Regions from separate parts of the Homo sapiens genome. Here all the other regions are linked to region 4. Evidence: fine-mapped QTL for protein levels in blood plasma. Region 4 holds a variant in brackets. A gene starts in each other region. All regions are shown on their reverse strands.

Region 1 (4,231 bases), not on the chromosome of region 4:
CTCCCTAGTAGCTGGGATTACAGGTGCCCACCACCACGCCTGGCTAATTTTTGTATTTTTAGTAGAGATGGGGTTTCACCACATTGGCCTGGCTGGTCTCAAACTCCTGACCTTGTGATCCACCTGTCTTGGCCTCCCAAAGTGCTGGGATTACAGAGTTGAGCCACCGCACTCGACCCTATGTTTTATTTTTAAAAATATTTATTTATTTATTTAAGCCACAACTACTAGAATAGGAAGGATTGATATTTTATTAATTTTATTTGGTATTTATTATTTTTTTTTCTTTCCTGAGACATTCTTGCTCTGTCACCCAGGCTGGAGTGCAGTGGCACATTCTTGGCTCACTGCAACCTCCATCTCCTGTGTTCAAGCAATTCTAGTGCCTCAGCCTACTTAGTAGCTGGGATGACTGGCATGTGCCTCCACACCCAGCTAATTTTTGTATTTTTTGTAGAGACAGGGTTTTGGCATGTTGCCCAGGCTTGTCTCAAACTCCTGGCCTCAGGTGATCCATCTGCCGTGGCCTCCCAAAATGCTGGGATTATAGGCATGAGCCACCACCCCCTCCTGGAAGGATTGATATCTTATAACATAATTTATAATTACAGAAAACATGTGAGTTCACTAGGAATAAATAAATTTTGAAGATAATAAAAGATTTTCACTTATGTTGTCATTTCGGCACAGTTTGGTATAGGATGTGGAGATGTTAACATTTATACCTAGCTTGCTCGTAAACTAAGACCTGAAAGGGTTGTGTCTATCAGCTGCACCCCTGGGTAGCGACACAACCTCGGGAAGGCCTCAGCCCCCTCCTCGTACAGCACTGCCTGTTGGAAAGCTTGAGGGAGGCTATGGATGTGCAGCACTTGGCAGAGGGTCTGGTCATGGAAGTTACCAGCAAATATGAGCTACTTTTATGATTTTATTTTATCCAAAAGAAAGAGAATGAAAGAAGAGGGGAGGAAACAAGACTAATCAGGAAAGATGAAGGTCTAGGGGTGAGGGAAGGAGTAAGGAGACATAAAGGCAATGTGGAGCAGCTGAGGGGGGAAATGGCTTTCACCACTTCCCAGCATCTATTGACATTGCACTCTCAAATATTTTATAAGACTCTATATTCAAGGTAATGTTTGAACCCTGCTGAGCCAGTGGCATGGGTCTCTGAGAGAATCATTAACTTAATTTGACTATCTGGTTTGTGGGTGCGTTTACTCTCATGTAAGTCAACAATGTCCTGGGATTGGGACACACTTTCTGGGCACTGCTGGCCAGTCCCAAAATGGAACATAAGGAAGTGGTTCTTCTACTTCTTTTATTTCTGAAATCAGGTAAGACATAGTTTTTTTAAATTATAAGAATTATTTTTTCTCCCACAATGTAGTAAAAATACATATGCCATGGCTTTATGTGCAATTCATTTAATTTTTGATTCATGAAATTCCCAGTTCAAAATCTTGTATATGATTGAAAAATTCTTAAAAAAATAAGTTTAATTTCCCCGTGAAGACTGTCACGGTGCTGGAATGAATGGGCAGAAAAAATAATGGTTGATTTTTCTAATCTAAAAGAGTGTGCCTACATGATGGCCAGTCTGGCTGAAAAATAAATAGCCATTGTAGCTAACTATGCAAAGGATGGCTAAGCTCTTCGCTTGGTTCTCAGTTTCATTAATTTATATCATCTCTGTTCAGGTGCCATGCTCCCCTCACTAGCAAGTTGAAACAATGAAATAACTCTTTGAATATGTTTGGTTCCTTGACCTGTTCATGGAGTGGGACTCAGCATTTCTCTCTTTGTTATGGCCTGAGTAAGGCTTTCCATCGGTATACATTTGCTTCTTATCCCTGGAGAAATTATACACATCCATTTGCCAGATGATATACGCATATAATGATTCAACAAATACTCAGGGTATTTGTTGAGTGGGTTAGGTCCCCACATTTTTATACATACATACACACATACACACCGTGTGTGATTGTGAATGTAAGTGTGTGTCCTTTACAAATACTAGCTTATTTAGCTCATGGTATAGGTAGGGTAGCATAGTCATCCCCATTTTATAAACAAAGAAATCTAGACTTAGGAAAATCATGTTATTTGTCTCGTGACCAAATTCCCAAATCAAGGAAATAAAGAAACCTGGATTTAAGCCAGATTTCCAAGAAAAAATCTAGGGCTCTTCTCACTTTTTCATCTTTGTTCCAACATTTGAAAAAATAAATCTAAACACATTCCAATGTAACTGAAGAGCAGGTTAATTGTTTGCCACTTGCAGAATCCAATTAAGAAGAGAGAAGTCTGGTATAAAGAAAGTGATTTGCTTCCAAAGCTAGCTTAGGGGAAGAAATGCAGCAGTCCTGCCGTACTACTTCACTTTAGGAGCAGAAAGTGGCACTTTTAAAAGGCAACAGAGGAGGCGAGCAAGGATTCAGGGGTCCATGCTAGCTTGGGCACCTTATCCACCAGGTAGTTGAGCAGTTGCCTGCTGGTGCCTTTGTGAGCAGGGTGTTGTCCCTTGAGGCAAATCTCTGGAGGGTGAGAGTTTTGTAGTGGGCATGCTTTGGTTTATAAATCACCTGTGAACTCAGGAGTTCCATCTTGAAGCACATACATAGTTAGATGAACTTGCCCTGCAGGGAGAGTCTGATGAAAGGGAGGTAGATGCTTGCAATTTAATCTATAAATTACCAGATAAAATTTTACAAGTTGACTTTAAAGTCAAACACATTTGAATTTAGTGGAAGCCATTCAAGAAAATATCAAAGAAAATACAGAGCAGGAGAAGATTAAGCAAAGAGTTTTTTGGGGAAATTGGTGTCTATGTCTGTGTGTGTAGGGAGTGCAGGGGATATGAATATTCTATTTCAGCCCATGGAAACTAGGATGTAGATCACTGTGAACTTATTCAGCAGGCTACACCCAAAGGCTAGAACAAACTTCTCTGCCACAGGATTAACATATGTTTTAATCGACCTGGGGGGCACATTCTCTGATAAGCTCTTTTGGAAAGCCAGGCTTTCTGTGGACGTGTTATCTTTCCAATGTGTGCTGGAATGCCCGGGGAGAGGAAAAAGTTTCTTTTACAGCCATGCTCAGTGAGAAGCGGAGAAACATCTTCTATTCACAAATTGCTAAGTCTTTTACACATGCAAATATGCATACACATTCACACACCACAGTGAGGAAGAAATTCTCACACCATTAATAAAATACATTTACTTCAGTAGCAATATACATCTACATTTTGCCTATAATATAAAAGTATTTTTCCTATTAAAAGATTTGTTTAATGTTTCTTCACCAACAAATAAACCCTATTAAATCCCCATTGCCATATGAGCCCTGGAGGTGAATCAGAGAAACAAAAGGATTGTGGAAAAATCATCAGGTTAAAAAAAGAAAAATTGATTCTGTTTTGGGATATTTCCTAGCAACATGAGCTGGGGAGGGGATCTCAGCAGTGATGCTCTATGAAGCATAATAAAATGACACAGTTACAGGTAACTTAGTTAAAGGGGGAAATAAATGGAAGTTTCCTCTTTTTGAATATCAATTGTAGCCTGCTCTGCTACATTTCAAAAACACTCTTCAAAATGTTTAACTGAACTCACTGTAGGAAGCACCTTATTAATTTATTGTGTGTTTTGAAGTCACACTGTGAGCTATAGAATTTACCCAAGCACAACTCTTCCTGGAAAAGAGAGTTCAAATGAGAAACAGTGCGGGGTGAAGACATGGATATGGGCCTAAAATATCTATTTCTCAATGATATTTTGATATATCTATCAAGTGCTTTTTAGTGGATTAGGTTCAGAATGCATCAGCCAATGCCTGTTCAATAATCCAGTTTTCCAGCATAGAGCATATTAAATTGAGGAAGGACAAAGTCACAGAGGTGGGGAGCAGGTGGACTGTGGCCAAGGACTTTGCATGAAACAGTGAGCGTGCATCCTCCTCCTTGCCCTGCCCTCATGGTCTGTGTACTCTCAGGAGGTCAGGACAGGCCTTTCTGAGAATGAGAATCTGTTCATCTGCCTTTCTACTGGATACTTGTCATCGGCATACAAACACATGTTCTCTGCAGTGTGTCATCTTTCAGAACCTCCCCTGACCCTGTATTCCCTAGAAGTCTCGCTGCTTTCAGAGCCAGGCTTCTCTCCTGCTGCCACCCCCACTGCTCTTCTAGTCACTCTTTAACCCACTCCATCTGCATGTGGCCCCC
Region 2 (4,262 bases), not on the chromosome of region 4:
GCCAATATGAAATGATACAAAATAAAGAGTAGTCATCACCCTTCCAATCTCCTGAGAGCAAATGGATTACATTTGCAGACACACACACACACACACACACACACACACACACACACACCCCACCTCTATGTGGGTGGTCAGGAAACTCAACTATATGGACATATAACAATTTCATTTAGAAAAGTGCTGATTAGAAAACTAAACTTACAAAATTAGAAAAACTGGAGAATAATGAATTTTATGAAAAATAGATTACAATGGATTCATAAGGCATGCCCTTTATTTAAGTCCCATTATGTTATTAAAATTGGGAATAACCCTTCACCCTCACAAATTTACAAAATATTTTTGGAACACATTATGCAAATATGGAGTCACACTGGTGTTGTGGAGCTGCTAACTCGAATAAAATACCATACTTGATAAAAAACCTTCTGTCCACTAAACTGTAAATGCCTTAAAGTCAAAGATCAGGCCTTATTTGCCTTTAGTGTATATTTAGTACTCTGTAGATAGAAGTGGTAAAGGGATAAGAATGAATGAATGAGACAGGCGGGTGAAATTTTCAAGAATGAGACAGATGGGTGAAGTTTTCAAAGGTTTCTAAAAGGGAAAAACAAGAAGACTAGGATATTCCAAGCAGAAAGGTCTGGTTGGTTGGCCCCAGTTGGTGTTCGCATATAAGAAGAGGGCTTGGCATTTTCCTCACCACTGAAGAAGGATCAGCCCCTGGTTTGGTCCAGTAAGAATATGTTCTTGCCCAAATGCCACTCCTTAGTTTCAGGGACATTGCTATTTTGGTTTTCTGTTCCAGCCCAAGTGTTCTTGATGGTCGAATTGTTTGCATTGACTTTTTTTCCACAAGAAGTTGGGTGATATTGCTGATTTGCCTGCCATGGCACTTCCTTGTTTTCATTTTGATTATTACTCAAAAATAGCTTCATTTTAAAATTCAACTTTTCTGACTCTCTGCTTGTGCCTTTAACACATTGACAATGATTTTCTGCTTCTCCACAAAGAAAGCACGTTGGATCCTGTCACAGACATATTTAGCAGACATGGAACCACCATAAGCCCTGCTTGGCATGTGTGTTTCATTTCAGACTACCTCATGAGAACTTTAGGTCTTAAAGCATCGGCCTCTCTCTCCAAGTCAGCCTGAACACAAGCCACAAGAGATTTCAGTTCTTTCTCGACCTTTTTGGTGTAAATGTAAACAATTCTATCACCAGGGGTTCAGGGCAGCCTAGTTTTGTTAGAGGCTGTATTGTAGGAAAGTCCAAGGTTGCAGGATCATTCTGAGTCCCTTAGACACCATTCTCAGAAGAGCTTGCTATTAGCTTAATGCTGCCCAACTACTACGTATGCTTCACGAGGGCAGGGACTTTTGTCTGTTTTCACTGCTACGGCTCCAACCTCTAAACAGTGCCCGACATAGTAGGCATTCAGTAAATATAGTACTTGTTAAATGGATGTTATTTTGGCTGCCTTTACTTTTGCTTTATTTGTCCTGCTTTACGGAGCTGGAAATTGGAGGAAAGCCTTTGAATTCATTTCCCTTCTTCCTTCTGTTCTGAAACTCTGGCCAAGGGTCCTAGCAAAGACCTTAGGGAGTGGGGAGCCCTCCTGGAAACTAATGACAAGTCAGGCGACAGGGGGCGGGAGAAGGAGAGCTGCAGGAAGTTCTTTCCCACTTACTTCTGCAGCACCCTTCACCACCCATCGTGCTCTGTATTTGGGGTTAGAGGTGTTCCGTGGAAGGGAAAGCAGGGGCCGCCTTGGCCGCGTTCCTCTCCTGGGCCACCGGGGTCTTGCCCACAGCGAGTCCCGCAGCACCCCCTGTCTGCGCAGCACCTGTTGACAGCCAGTGGGCGGCCAAGCCCGCTCGCGCGGACGCGTCCCAGGGCTGCCCCTCCCAGAGGCGCTGACCCCCGCCCGCCCCATCGGCCGCCTGCGGGAGAGCCGCTGAGCCGCCCCCGCTCGCCAGGCGCGCGCTCCGCCCGGGCTCGGCCCACGGCCCCCACCTCCTGTCTGCCGCCCGGCGGGGGGAAGGTAGAGAAGGGGAGGGGACAAGCCGGATCCTCCCGGCCGCCCCGGCCTTCCCTCTTCACCCCGTGCGGAGACGCCGCGCGTAGCCCCGAGGTTAGCGCGGAGCCCGAGGCGTGGGGGGAGGGGACGGGGAACAACCGGAGCCCCGCGGTGACCCCGAGCGGCCGAATTGCCCCAGGCTTTGAGGAGCGGGGGACGAGCCCGAACAAGGTGAACTTTGGTCGCGGAAAACTCAAGCCAGGTGCCGGAATCCGTGCTGCGGCGCTCCGAACCCGGGGCCAACTGCGCTCCGGGCTGAGGAGCGGGAGCCCCGCGGCCTCTCTCCGCCTGCGCCCGGGCCGCCGTCGGCCCGGAGCCCCCCGGCCCCGCTCCGGCGCCCCGGCCCGTGGGACCCGCCGCGGCGCCCTCGCCTTGTTTCTTCCCCCTCCCCCTTCGGGGGTGGGGGGTGGGGCGGGGGAGAGGGGCGCCCGGAGAGCCGCATCTATTGGCAGCTTTGTTATTGATCAGAAACTGCTCGCCGCCGACTTGGCTTCCAGTCTGGCTGCGGGCAACCCTTGAGTTTTCGCCTCTGTCCTGTCCCCCGAACTGACAGGTGCTCCCAGCAACTTGCTGGGGACTTCTCGCCGCTCCCCCGCGTCCCCACCCCCTCATTCCTCCCTCGCCTTCACCCCCACCCCCACCACTTCGCCACAGCTCAGGATTTGTTTAAACCTTGGGAAACTGGTTCAGGTCCAGGTTTTGCTTTGATCCTTTTCAAAAACTGGAGACACAGAAGAGGGCTCTAGGAAAAAGTTTTGGATGGGATTATGTGGAAACTACCCTGCGATTCTCTGCTGCCAGAGCAGGCTCGGCGCTTCCACCCCAGTGCAGCCTTCCCCTGGCGGTGGTGAAAGAGACTCGGGAGTCGCTGCTTCCAAAGTGCCCGCCGTGAGTGAGCTCTCACCCCAGTCAGCCAAATGAGCCTCTTCGGGCTTCTCCTGCTGACATCTGCCCTGGCCGGCCAGAGACAGGGGACTCAGGCGGAATCCAACCTGAGTAGTAAATTCCAGTTTTCCAGCAACAAGGAACAGAACGGTGAGTCTTTCCCCCATTCTCCCCCTGCTTGTTTCTCGCTGTGTGTGTTAACGTTGGCATTGTGCGTTGGTATGTGATATATACCAGACTGTGAAGGTATCTTTGGTCTCTCATTACATGCAAATGTGCGCTGCGTTCATTGGCATGGACTGTTAAAGGTTAAGTGTAGTTTGCAACTTCGGGAGCTGCCACAAAGCTCCAAGAGGGCAACGTGAGTGCCACTGCTGAGTGAGGACATTCTGGGAGCGATTGTGAACGTCATTTCAAATGCACATTGCAGGTTCGCTCATTGCTAAAGTTAGAAGTTCAAGAACTGCCTCTAAAAACGAATCCAAAATGAATGAGCCTTGGCATGTTTGACTTTACTCAGATTTGGGGAGGGCGAGGGGGGTCGGTCAGGAAATATATCAGCCGCATTAATTGAAGCACTCTAGGTCGAAGTCATCAATTAATCAATGAGTAGATAGGAAATATAGAGGTCAAGAGGCTGTGTGGTCGTTTTTAGAGGAATTAAAAAGTGTATTTCTCTTGCTCCCTAGTTTTTGTTTTTTAAACTTGCCTTTGTACTCTGAAGTCCTTACCTTTCTGGTGGTGTGTTTTTGTATGTGTTGGTGAATGACTGCTATTTTGTGTGTGCTGGAAACGACTTAATCCTGCATAGGAAATGAGAATTACTTTCAGCTTTCAAGTGTACCTGAAATGTTTAGAAAACTCTCAGATGCAAGTTCCCTTGGGCTGGGATTGCACAGAGCTGGAGAAAGGCTCCTTTCATAAAGCCAGGGCAGCTTCAGGGTGTGTAATTTGCTTAGCCTCTGAACCCATATGATTTACATCATTCAATTTCTAAACTCTTTTTCTCTTCATCTACCATTATGAAGTCATTTTTGAGAATACTTTGTAAATAGAAATTTTATACTGCACATGAAACCACAATGTTCATGTTAGGCTGTCTAAAATTGGAATATTTAACGCCCTGTTTACAAATGGTGGCTCTTACTGTAATTTGAAAAGGAATATACATGTTTTTACTGCTTTGTATATCATCTATTCAGAATGCAAGGATTCTGTCACTTGATTAACCATGCAAAATGAACACAAGTGGCATACCTACAAAATTAAGATAGGATGTGCTATAGTTT
Region 3 (4,000 bases), not on the chromosome of region 4:
CCTTGTAAGTCTTCATTGGGAATTTTTTGTTTGATAACGACCCTAAGGGAAATCAGAGAGTGGGCCACGTAGATACCAGGGCAGAAGAGCGTTCCAGTTAGAGGAAACAACAAGGGCAAAGGCTTTGAGGTGGCAGTATGTTTGATGTGTTTGAATACTGGTAAAGCGGTCAGAATAACTAGAGTAGAGGAGGTGAAGTCAGTGAGATGACGAAGGGTTGGGTAATCTTGGTCTAAAGAGCCAATATGAGTGAAATGGAAAGCTATTGTGTGGTTTTGAGCAAAGAGAAACATGATCTAATTTGAATTTTAGTAAGATGACATTGGCTGCTATGAATTAATTTTTTTTCTTACAATAATCCTATAAGTTCTGTTATTATCTTTGTAGTATATGTGAGGAAACTGAGAGATAAAGGGGTGAAGTAATTTATTCAAGGTCACACAAAGTTTTAGAGCCATGGTTTAAATGCAGGTAGTTTATTAGCTTCAGAGCCTGCAATTTTAACAGTTATGCTGATGTGATAATTTTACTCATGATCCAGTTAAAGCTTGTAAATAATTTTAGGATTCAGTGTTTTTACAGACCTGTGTGAAAGATGGGACATACCATTAAAATACTGACTTACCTGATTTTCTATTTCTTTTATTTGACTATGCTGTTGGTTTAATTGTTTATATTGGTCTTCCACGGTCTGGAGAAGGTCTTTGATGCTATTATCTTGTTTTTCTACAAAAGTCTGGATATAGAGAGTAGGTTGGTTATAAGTTGCTTTCCTCTTTCTTTTCTATTAATTTCCTGTAACACTATCATAATCTAAATTTTTAAACTAATAATGGATTTGAAAAATGAATATTGGCAATTCCTTCCCCTTGTATGCTTCTTTCAAATAGCACATATTTTTGTCCTTAACATTTTATTTAAATTGTACTATCTCTAAAATTTGATTTTCTGAACTTCAATTAAAAGAAAAAGCCCAGCATATTTTCATATGAATAAATCTTTTCCATTTACTGTATTATTTAATCTGTTTTAAACACTGGAGAATAGTTTTAAATTTTTTTTAACTTTTTACTTACCTTCAGTAATTTACAATAGTGTAATGACATAGTGTTCTAGATTGTATAATTTAACCGATTTGTAATTTTCATATAAAATGCAAATTTTCAGTGTTTTCATATATAACATTAGGGAAACAAAAAACTAACTTGAAATTATAATAGGAAATTTTATTTTCTGGAGATTATTTTTCTTGGAAAAAAAAGTATTTCAACAATGCAACAAAGTATTTCAAATGGCATGCCTTAGAAATATTTTTTTTAAAAGATCCACATTGAAAACATAAACATGAACCCTCTTTATTTTCTACTTACTTTAAGTGAAGTTACTTCTGGGTGTTCTGGAGTTTCAGGTTGATTTTGAATTAAGTTAGTTAGTTGCTCTTCTAAATATTTCACTTTTTGTTGAAGTAGAATTTTTTCTTCTAGGAGGCTTTCAAGTTTTGAGTTGAGTTCAAGTGACATATTCTTTACCTCTTCATTTTTGACTTGTAGTTTATATGTAGTTCTTCTCAGTTCCTTTTCTTCTTCTTTGATTTCACTGGTTTGCAGCGATAGATCATAAAAAGACTGATCAAATATGTTGAGTTTTTGAAATATGTCATTAATTTGGCCCTTCGTCTTATGGACAAAGTCTTTAAGACCATGTCCCAACTGAAGGAGGCCATTGGCTAAAATTTTTACATCGTCTAACATAGCAAATCTTGATTTTGGCTCTGGAGATAGAGAATCAAATGATGAATTGTCTTGATCAATTCTGGAGGAAATAACTAGAGGAACAATAAAAAGAAGGAGCTTAATTGTGAACATTTTTATCTTGATTTTCAATTTCAAGCAACGTGGAACTGTTTTCTTCTGGAAGCAGACCTAGACTTCTTAACTCTATATATACCAATATTTGCCCAGAAAAGGTAAGGTTGGTAGGTGAACATAGTTAATCATTAAGCCGTGTTAACTTGCACGAATGTAACCTTCTTCCACATTGAGTTAGATCAATGCTAAATGAAATCAAAGAAATGAGCAACTAACTTAATAGGTAATTTGAAATTGTATTTAACTTTGCTGTATTATAAACTACACATTCAATGCTATGGTGACTACCTGTTTTTAAAAGCTAATTTTACTTTTTTATGATTTTAAGAGATTTACAAGTCAAAAATAAACTTTTTTGTTGGGTAAATTTATTATTAAAGTTGAGGGGAAAAAAGTAATGAATTAAGTATGCATTTCTCAAACTGTACTTTAGTTCTTTTGGAAACAGTGATCCATTCCAAAAAACACTTTCTCTCTGAAGCCTTTCTCCACTCCCTCAGGTGGTGTTACGGCTCTCAATGCTGTGTTCCTCTGGTACTCTGTATAAATCAATGTATAATTATATGCTCCTCATTTTTTGTCACTATAATTGTTAATATGTTTTTTTGCATCACCTTATATGTCTTAACCATCCTTGTATATTGTCACAAAATCCCATATATAGTAAGTGTCATTAAAGACATTTCACTCCCTTTTCTCCACTGTGTTCTGTGTCTCTGTGTTCTAGGCTCTTTACCATGTGCTCGTTGAAGGAACAATGGATATGTGGTCATCTAGGACCAAACTAGAATTGAATCTTAAATACCTTCAATGTCACAAGCAGCTTGCCCATCATAAGTTTTTCTGAAGTTTGTTAGCTTAGTAACAATTTTGATAATATACATTTAACAAAAAGAGGAGATTAATAACATTTTTTTTTTAAAGATGATGTCTTAATGTATTGCCCATGCTGGTCTGGAAATACTGGGCTCAAGCAATTCTTTTACCTTGGCCTCCCAAAATTTACAGGCATGAGCCCAGCCGATTACAAGCGTGAGCCCAGCCAATTAATAATATTTCTAAAAATAAATGTTCCACTATGCTTCCAACTTAGTGTTAAAAAAATACTAAATGCTTATATTAGTGATTATTCTTATTGAGTGTTCATATTAAGAAATTTGTGAGAAAATAGCATCCTTTAAAACTGCTTAATCTTGACATATTAATATGGTGAAATTGTTAAGAATATGGGTGCTGGAGTCAGACTGTGGTGTGGGTCCAAAAGCCGGCTCTAGCTGTCTGGCCTTGGACAAGTTACTTAACCTCCCCATGGATTAGTCTCCTCATCTGTAAAGCTGGGGTAATTATAGTACATAATTCATAGTGTTATGATAATTTAACAATAATACATGTAGAGCACTTAGAACAGTGCTGGGCAAACAGGTAGTGCTCAAAATGCTAGTTATTATGTCACATGAAACTAACTTTTAACCTGTGTATGTGTGTGGGTATATATAATCAACCTTACCTAAAAGAAATTTTTCATAAAGTTAATAGCTTTTTAACACAGGGAAAAGTTTTATCATAATAAATTTCAGTGTAAATTATAAATTGTTAATACAAAATAAACCATTTCCAAATTTCTTTTCTTTTTTAGAGACAGGGTCTTGCTCTGTTGTCCAGGCTGGAGTGCAGTGGCATGATCATAGCTCACTATAGCCACGAACTCCTGGGCTCGAGCAAGCCTCCTCCCTCTGTCTCCCAAGTAGCTGAGACTATAGATGCATGCCACCACACCCAGCTAATTTTTAAATATTTTGTAGAGACTGTGTTTCACTATGTTGCCCAAGCTGACCTTGAACTCCTGACTTCAAGTGAACCTCCCATATCAGCCTCTCAAAGTGCTGATATTAAAGGAGTAAGCCACTGTGCTCGTCCCTAAATTTCTATTCTTAGAAATGCCTCTTCATTGTGTAAAATAGAGGCTCTTCCTTTTGATGACTTAGGATTAAGGGTTTTGGGTATAATAGTTACAGTAGAGGCAGTATTCCATAGTGGTTAAGAGCATGATTCTGGAATAAGACTGCCTGAATCAGAATCCCGGATTTCATATTCTTCAGCTTTGTGACCTTTGGTCAAATTACTTCACATCT
Region 4 (2,613 bases):
GCTCCTGGACATACGGTGAATCAGCAGCAGGCCCAGCAGACCAGGCCCCCTGCCTGTGAGCACACTGACCCTTCCCCTCCTCACTCAGCCCTGGTGAGTCATCTCCAGGGGAGGGGTGCTGCCTCCACGTGGGTGATCAGAGCAGTGCCAGGGAAAGCACCAAGTTCAGGGTGTGCAGGAGCCAAGATGGGCAGAGGGACAAGCAGATGTTGCAGCTGGCCCAGGAGATACAAGCTCAAGTCTCAGCCTGTCCCCCGTTGGTGGGAACCCTCCTCCCCGTCTCTGAGAACTGAGGGGGTGGGAGGAGAAGAGAGTGCCGGCGGCTCCTGGGCTTCCATCCAAGCTTCCCCTCTCTGAGCGCCAGCTCTCGTCTCAGCATGGGCCTGGTGCAGACTCCGACAGAAGAGCCGCTCCCTTCTCTTCCCAGCCTGGATTCAGCACCCAGTAGGCTTGTTGGGAAACATGAGGGGTAGACATCACAACTGGAGGAAAGGATGGAGAATGAGGGATGGTCCGGGTGAGGTGGCTCATGCCTGTAATCCCAGCACTTTGGGAGGGTGAGGCAGGCAGATTACTTGAGGTCAGGAGTTCGAGACCTGCCTGGCCAACAATGCCGAAGCCTTGTCTCTACCAAAAATACAAAAATTAGTCGGGTGTGGTGGGACACGCCTGTAATCCCAGCTACTCTGGAGGCTGAGGCAGGAGAATTGCTTGAATCTGGGAAGTGGAGGTTGCAGTGAACCAAGATTGCACCACTGCACTCCAGGCTGGGCAACAGAGCAAGACTCTGTCTCAAAAAAAAAAAAAAAAAAAAAAAAAAAAAAAGAAAGAAAGAAAGAGAATGAGGGTTGGGCAGGGAAACCCAGTTCACAGTGGGTGAAGGGACAGCTAGCTCAGAGGGAACCGGAGAAGCAGAGAGCTCAAACCAAACTGAATGGCAGAAGAAGAAATCCAGATGAAGGGGGTTGGGGGAGAAACAAGCAGGCCGGGGAGAAAGAAAAGAAACCGTAGGAGGGAGAGATAAAAGATAGAAGTGGAGGAAAACAGGAAGCCAGAGTCTCCTGAGGAGAACAGGGAGAGACAGAGGGGTGGGATGGGGTGCAGGGTGGGTGGGAAGGAGGCAGATATCAGATAAGACTGGAGGAGAGAAGGGGGAGAATAATGACAGCAGAAAAAAAATGAAAATAGCTTAGAATAAAGGCACCAATCTCAGGTCATTTGGAGTTGCAACTCTGAGGAACAAGTATTATTAAGTTGGGCAGGCCGGGCTCGGAGCCCCATGCCTGGAATCCCAGCACTTTGGGAGGCCGATGGCGGAGGATCTCTTGAGCCCAGGGGTTTGAGACTAGCCTGGGCAACATATTGAGACCTTGTCTCTACAAATAATAATAAAAAGCTGGGTGTGGTGGTGCTAGCCAGTAGTCTCAGCTACTCAGGAGGCCAAGGTGGGAGTATCGCTTGAGCCCAGGAATTCCACATCAGCCTGGCCAACAAAGCCAGACCCCATCTCCACACACACCACC[C/A]CCCCCCCCAAATTAATCCTAGTGGTATGCGCCTGTAGTCTCAGCTACTGGAAAGGCTGAGGCGGGAGGATCACTTATCACTTGAGTCCAGGAGGTGGAGGCTGCAGTGAGCTGTGATGGCGGGTGACAGGGTGAGACCTTTCCCTGCCCCCTAAAAAAGAAAGAGGGGCAGAGGCCGGGCATGGTGGCTCAGGCCTGTAATCTCAGCACTTTGGGAGGCCGGCGGGTGGATCACTTGGTCAGGAGTTTGAGACCTGCCTGGCCAACATGGTGAAAGCTCGTCTCTACTAAAAATACAAAAATTAGCCGGGTGTGGTGGTGTGAGCCTGTAATCCCAGCTACTGAGGCAGCAGAATCGCTTGAACCCAAGAGGCAGAGGTTGCAGTGAGCCAAGATCGTGCCACTGCACTCTAGCCTGGGTGACAGAGCCAGACTCCGTCTAAAAAAAAAAAAAAGGGCAGAGAGAAAGATACACACAGACACAGATGGAGAGGAGGGGGCTGAGAATTGTGTGGCCAGTATGTGGGCAGAAAGAGAAACTGAGGCTGGGGCTTAGAGGAAATCACAGGGGGAGGCCAGCAGATGCGTGAAACTTGGTGAATCTTTATTAAACTAGGGTCCACCCCAGGAGGACGGCTGGGGCGGGGACAGGGTCTCCCGCTGCAGGCTGCGCGGAGGCAGGAGGCACGGGGTGGCGTGGGGTCGCATGGCTGCAGGCTTCGGCGTTCAGTGATTGTCGCTGGGCACAGGGGCGGCGCTGGTGCCCACGGCAGCCTGCACCTTCTCCACCAGCCCGGCCCACTGGCGCTGCATGTCTTCCACCAGGGGCTCGAACCAGCTCTTGAGGCGGGCCTGGAAGGCCTCGGCCTGCAGGCGTATCTGCTGGGCCTGCTCCTCCAGCTTGGCGCGCACCTCCGCCACCTGCTCCTTCACCTCGTCCAGGCGGTCGCGGGTCCGGCTGCCCATCTCCTCCATCCGCGCGCGCAGCCGCTCGCCCCAGGCCTGGGCCCGCTCCTGTAGCGGCTGGCCGGCCAGGGAGCCCACAGTGGCGGCCCGCACGCGGCCCTGTTCCACCAGGGGCCCCAGGCGC

Direction of the effects. Alleles are on the strand shown, and positions count from the first base shown. The strength of an association depends on the size of the effect and on how common the allele is.
With allele C in place of A in region 4, the plasma level of the protein whose gene starts at base 1,225 in region 1 is higher (moderate association).
In carriers of allele C in region 4, the plasma level of the protein whose gene starts at base 2,110 in region 2 tends to be lower than with A alone (moderate association).
In carriers of allele C in region 4, the plasma level of the protein whose gene starts at base 1,912 in region 3 tends to be lower than with A alone (weak association).

What was found. A credible set is the group of variants that fine-mapping cannot tell apart. PIP is the chance, under the fine-mapping model, that this variant and not a neighbour inherited with it causes the effect. Protein levels are from antibody-based Olink assays in UK Biobank. Linkage for the fine-mapping came from a reference panel and not from the study's own genotypes, which makes the PIPs less certain.
Region 1: LPA starts here. The variant in region 4 is the best candidate, but not a certain one, in a credible set for the plasma level of the LPA protein (UK Biobank, PIP 0.63).
Region 2: it holds the start of PDGFC, and the variant in region 4 is the best candidate, but not a certain one, in a credible set for the plasma level of the PDGFC protein (UK Biobank, PIP 0.59).
Region 3: ANGPTL3 starts here. The variant in region 4 is the best candidate, but not a certain one, in a credible set for the plasma level of the ANGPTL3 protein (UK Biobank, PIP 0.72).

The regions. Positions count from the first base shown.
Region 1 is chr6:160,661,269-160,665,499 of GRCh38, reverse strand. It overlaps LPA (lipoprotein(a)), which reads left to right and starts at 1,225. Exons shown (of 39, transcript NM_005577.4): 1 at 1,225-1,334. The coding sequence starts at 1,286.
Region 2 is chr4:156,969,647-156,973,908 of GRCh38, reverse strand. PDGFC (platelet derived growth factor C) reads left to right here and starts at 2,110. Exons shown (of 6, transcript NM_016205.3): 1 at 2,110-3,123. The coding sequence starts at 3,006. RefSeq lists an enhancer at 1,823-2,323.
Region 3 is chr1:62,595,432-62,599,431 of GRCh38, reverse strand. ANGPTL3 (angiopoietin like 3) reads right to left here and starts at 1,912. Exons shown (of 7, transcript NM_014495.4): 1 at 1,371-1,912; 2 at 626-736. The coding sequence starts at 1,865. All of the region lies in intron 14 of DOCK7 (dedicator of cytokinesis 7), which reads left to right.
Region 4 is chr19:44,908,887-44,911,499 of GRCh38, reverse strand. It overlaps APOE (apolipoprotein E), which reads right to left. Exons shown (of 4, transcript NM_000041.4): 4 at 2,107-2,613. The coding sequence ends at 2,250. Among named protein-coding and RNA genes, the nearest start is that of APOE, 4.4 kb to the right of the region's middle. The variant C/A (reference allele first, on the strand shown) is at 1,524.